Linked DNA regions of Homo sapiens: region 1 is linked to region 2. Evidence: fine-mapped expression QTL. Tissue or cell type: blood mononuclear cells. Region 2 holds a variant in brackets; the other region holds the start of a gene. All regions are shown on one strand. Distances are between the middles of the regions.

Region 1 (2,500 bases), 110 kb before region 2:
GGGGTTGGTGAACTCCTGGGCTCAAGCAATTCTCACACCTCAGCTTCCCAGACTGCTGGGATGATAGGCATGAGCCACCCTGCCTGGCCCATTTGCATTTTTACAGGACGAGATCACTTCTATCCCCACTGGAAAAACATTTGTCTTGCTAACACACAATAAGCTTTCAGCTTAGTTTTCTACAAGTTAACTTTTCCATTAAAAAGAGTTGTAAAATGTCCTCATTGTAAATAGTAAAACTACTAGAGTTCAATGGCGTTTGGCAGGCTTGTCAGATAGGTGCCTTAGCATGACTGAAGGCCATAGGCATTGTTTCTGTCTTACTTGTAAGTTCTGGCTCTGACAGGTATAGTCAGGTGGTGCATGCTCTATATTAATCAAATTAGGCTTTGAAAGCTGGGAAAGAGTTGGGGACTTGCCTCGGGTGACATCTGTTCGTGTGACCCCCTCCTTCCACCTCCTGTACTGCGCAGCTCATGTCCTTTATGACCCTCTGTGATGCACCCACCTCCTGGTCTCCGCACTCAGCATTCTGCATCAGGTGGTTTAAGCGACTCTCCCTCCCTCTAGGCTACGGGAGCAGTTTTCTTGTCCTCCTCTCAGCCTCCAACTCAGGATCTGGTACATCTTACAAGTTTAATAGTGTTTGTTGAATAACCTCATGAAGAAGGTGGGATCTGAGCTGTGTTGTGAAAAAATAGTGTCTGTGAGGACATGGAGGTGGGGTCAGCGGAGGCGAGGACAGCGCGAGCTCCGCACAGTTTTCTGCTGCGGGAGGGTGGCCTGCAAGGCGGGGCCGGTTGCGGTCAAGTTCAAGTAGGGTCAGAGCAGGAGAACACTGGCATAAAAAATAGCCACATCCAAGGAAGCAGTGAGGTGTGGGGACCATCTATTTCGGTGGGCCTTCCCACCCCCAGGCCGGCCTTCCCATCACGCGTGGGTGTGGGGGCACTGCCCCCGCTGCGCGCAGGAACAGCGGGGAGAGCCAGGAGCGGAGCGGCTTCGGGATGCCAGACTGAGCAGTGGGTTCGTCTGCGGCCACCTCTCAGGGAACAAGCTTCCCCCCGCGGAGACTCTGCTTCTTTTAAAAGCCTTCCTGGGTTTAGTCTAGGGCGACAGGACGACCTCCCTTGGGAAGGGAGAGCCTGCCAGTCCCCCTCCCATTCGCCAGGCGGTGCAGCCCCTCCTCCCGCCCGGGGCGCGCGCACCTCAGCGTCGCGGGCCTAGCGCCCAGCAGCCGCGCCCCAGGCCGGGCCTCGGGTTCCGGGAGCCCGCAGGCGCGCGCCCGGCCGGGCGTGTCGGGAGCGCGCGGCGGCCGGGGGCGGAGCGCAGCCAGGGCTGCGCGGCGCGCCCCGGCTCCCGCCCGCTCCCAGCCGGGCCCCCCAGCGGTCGGCGGGACGGCTCCCGGCTGCAGTCTGCCCGCCCGCCCCGCGCGGGGGCCGAGTCGCGAAGCGCGCCTGCGACCCGGCGTCCGGGCGCGCTGGAGAGGACGCGAGGAGCCATGAGGCGCCAGCCTGCGAAGGTGGCGGCGCTGCTGCTCGGGCTGCTCTTGGAGGTAGGGGCCGGGGACCGGGTGCTGCCGGAGGCGCGGCGCCCACCATGCTGGCGGCTGGGGGCGCGCAGTTCCGAGGCGCCCCAGAGGACCTTGCCTGGGAGCGCAGACGGTGGAGCGACGGGGAGCCACAGCCCTGCGCGCCTCCCGGAGCTGGGAGGTGCGGGACCCTGGTGACGGGGAGGCTCCCGCCCCGGTCCGCGCCTTCCGTCGTTCCTTCGGTTTTCGCACCCCGCCCCCACCCTGCGGGTGAGCGCGTTTCCCGCGCCGACCGCCTCCGTTAGCTCGGGGTGACCTTTGTGCACCGTCCGCCCCCTCTCCCCGCCGCAGAGGGCCGAGGATCGGATGGACCCGGGGTTGGGCGGGGGTGGTCCTCGGGCGCGGCGCAGGCGCGGAGAGCCCGGGGCGCCGGGCAGTTTGGGGTTAGGAAAGGATGGGTGCCGAGCCGGGGTGAGGGGAGCGGGCGGAGGGGACTGTGGGGAAGTGTCGCGGGAGTGCCGGGAGTTGTGGAGGTGAGCAGCGGGAGGAGGCGTTCCCGCGTGTGAAAATGAAGTGCAGCCTTTAGGTGCGGGGAGGAAATTCTGCGGAGAGCCTGGCTGGGTGGGGGTGCGGAGCCGAAGCCGGCGGGGAACTTGTTGAGCGGCTTCCGGGTGCGAGCGCCCGTGACCGCATCCCTGGCGGGGACCGCGGCTGCTCCTGGCTGTGAAATTGCATCCTCGGATGGGGCCACATACTTCTCACTAAAGCAGGTTCCTTAAAATGCGAACTAGAGGAATTCTGGGGTGTCCAGTCTGAATCAGGGCTTGTTCAACTTTCTCCTTAGTTTCATTATTCTGAAGGAAATTTGCGTTAAATTAATGAAGTCAAAAGAAATAGGTAATGAATCCCATGCCTCTGTTTTAGGAAGTTGTGAAACTATCTTCCTTAATAGTTAGTGATTGGTGCTGG
Region 2 (2,707 bases):
CAGAAGGTGGCTGGCGAGGGAGGAGCTGTTTCTCAGAGAGGCTCCGCATTGAGGCCGGCAGGTACAGAGAGCAGAGGGGCTGTGGTAGGGACCGGGGAGATTGACCAATGGCTGTTGCGAGAATAGCTGTGCCAGGGACCAGAGGTCTCCTGCCTGACTCCCTCCTGCCCCTCACCCCATGTGCACAGAGCAGCTGGCTGCAGGAATTAAAGGCCCAGAGCTTGTTTTCTCACAAAGGGGGTGCTTTACGTCAGGGGTTCTCAACCCTCAGGCTGCAGACCAGTACTGCTCTGTGGCCTGTTAGGAGCTGGGTCATACAGCAGGTGGTGAGTGGCAAGCAAGCGTTACCACCTGAGCTCTGTCTCCTGTCTGATCAGCAGTGGCATTAGATTCCCATAGGAATGTGAGCCCTATTGTGAACTGTGCAGGAGAGAGGTCTAGGTTGTATGCTCCTTATGAGAATCTAATGCCTAATGATCTGAGGTGGAAGTTTCATTCTGAAATCATCCCCACCACCCCCTGGTCCGTGGAAAAATTGTCTTCTACAAAACCAGTCCCTGGTGCCAAAAAGGCTGGGACCACTGCTTAACATGGTAAGGCTCCTGGCATGGGTGAGGTGGGCTGTTGGCATCACTACCCAATTTTAAGTGTTTTGAACATTTTCTAATTTATCAATTAAAATGTTCATAGTTGGGCCAGGCACAGTGGCTCACACTTGTAATCTCAGCACTTTGGGAGGCTGAGGCAGGAGGATCACTTGAACCCAAGAGTTTGAGACCAGCCTGGGCAACATAGTGACATCCCATCTCTTTTTTAAAAAATTAAATTAAAAAAATAAGATGTTCATAGTCTGGGGCTCCTATGGCTTTCCCACAGCCCCTGGATCTCAATCCAAGGTCATTCACCACAATCCCAATCCCACCTTGGAAAATTTCTCTGGCACTAGAGGAAAGAAACTCAGCTTCTGGTTTCCCCCCTCAGTCCCCGAGCCTCTGCCCACATTGTGGCTCTGCATCCTTTTCTAGAGGATCTGCGTGCTATTTAAAATGCTTTGTCATAAAGCAGAACTCTTCCCTCCTTTCTGTCACTCTGTAGGAGGGGAGAGGAGTCCCTCCCTCCATTTTGACTCTGAAGTTTTCTGACTTGCACTATGCCAGCCTTTCTACCCAATTGCCCAAGCATTTCTCAGCTAAAGTGATCCTTAGTAGCTTGAATTCTTGTCACAATGTGTTCAGGCTGCTATAACAAAATACCATAGGCTGGGTGGTTTATAAACAAAGGAAATTTATTTCTTAGAGTTCTGGAGGCTGTTCGGAAGTCTAAGGTCAGGA[A/G]TGCAGTAGGTTCGGTGTCTGGTGAGTGTCTGCTTCGTGGTTCATAGATGGCTGTCTTCTTGCTGCACAGTCACTTGGCAGAAAGGGTGAGGGGTTCTCTCTCTGGGGCCACTAATCCCTTTCATGAGGGCTCCCTCCCCCTCATGACTTCATTTCCCAAAGGGCCCACCTTCAAACACCATCGGAGTGGGGATTCAGTTTCAACATATGACATTTGGGGGGACACAGACATTCAGTCCATAGCGGTTCTCAGTGCCTAACATTCTTTGGATGCCAAGAATGAGAGCACAGAGTAGATGTGAGAGAGTCCCTGTGGACCTAACTGTGCATTGCTGGTGTCATGGAAAGACTGTGGGCTCTGAAGATGGACAGTCTTGCTCAAGTCCTGAGTCTACTAATTACTGGCTTTGTGTCTTCCAGCAAATGATTTAATCTCCAGTCTCAGTTTCCTCAACTATAAAATGGAGATTATACTACCTATTGTTTATACGAAGCTTGCACATAGTGGATAATCAGCAAATATTAAAAATCCTCTGCTCTCTCTCATTCTACAATTCCTTGAGAAGTTGAAGCACAGTGGGAGAAGAAATAAGCTCCCACCCAAGCTTTTGCTCATCTGTGAGGAGTCGGTCTGTGGTATCGTCAGAGGAGTGTGAAAGGAGGAATTTTCTTGAGACATTCTCCATGTAGTCTCCATCTTTCAGACTACGATCATGTAAAGGAAGCCAAGGGTTTTCACATACACCATCACCACTCCACACATCACCTACCGTTCTTGTCTTGAAAGGTTGATGTGTGTTGCCCAGTGGATGTTGAGCCAATCAGAGATAGAAGGAGAAACCTTAGGCAACCACCTCTTTTTTCCCTCACTACTTATATGGGATGAGATCTGCGAGCATCCCAGAACAAACCTCGAAGTGTAAACAGTATTTTGTACATCCAGAGAGAAGGGTTTCAAGATAGCTGACTAGCGACACCTGGCACTTCTGCACAAAGAAGGACCAAAACTGAACAATCACATAACAAGTGGAGCTTCTAAGAGAACAATGGAATTCATCAGAGAAGTGACAGGGAACATCTGAGGCTTGGAAGGAGAGGGAAGCAAAGCAGCTGGTCCAGCTGCAATCAGCTCGGAGCCAGGAGAAACCCCCCAGTGCAGAGAGAAGGTAAGCAAGAGATCTTCAGCAGTCTACATTGCCACACTGACTCTTACAGTCCTAGCCACAGGAGAGCCCCTCAGCCCTTGTGGGCCCTGAGACTAGTCTAAGGAGCATCCTCAAGTCCTCCAATGCCATTAGTCCAGAGAAGAACTTCACTCTGGGTCCCCCACACACCCCAAGATCAAGACACCTGCAGCATGGCATTATTTTGAGAGG

What was found. PIP is the estimated chance that this variant, and not a neighbour inherited with it, causes the effect.
Region 1: it holds the start of VOPP1, and the variant in region 2 is fine-mapped to the expression of VOPP1 in blood mononuclear cells (TOPMed, PIP above 0.99). The same link has a PIP of 0.9 or more in T cells and whole blood.

What each region holds. Positions count from the first base shown.
Region 1 is chr7:55,571,326-55,573,825 of GRCh38, reverse strand. VOPP1 (VOPP1 WW domain binding protein) reads left to right here and starts at 1,324. Exons shown (of 5, transcript NM_030796.5): 1 at 1,324-1,555. The coding sequence starts at 1,502. VOPP1-DT (VOPP1 divergent transcript) reads right to left here and starts at 1,060. Exons shown (of 17, transcript NR_187585.1): 1 at 509-1,060. RefSeq lists a silencer at 1,091-2,070 and an enhancer at 2,271-2,330.
Region 2 is chr7:55,464,779-55,467,485 of GRCh38, reverse strand. It overlaps a transcript of VOPP1 not described here. Among named protein-coding and RNA genes, the nearest start is that of LANCL2, 100 kb to the right of the region's middle. The variant A/G (reference allele first, on the strand shown) is at 1,332.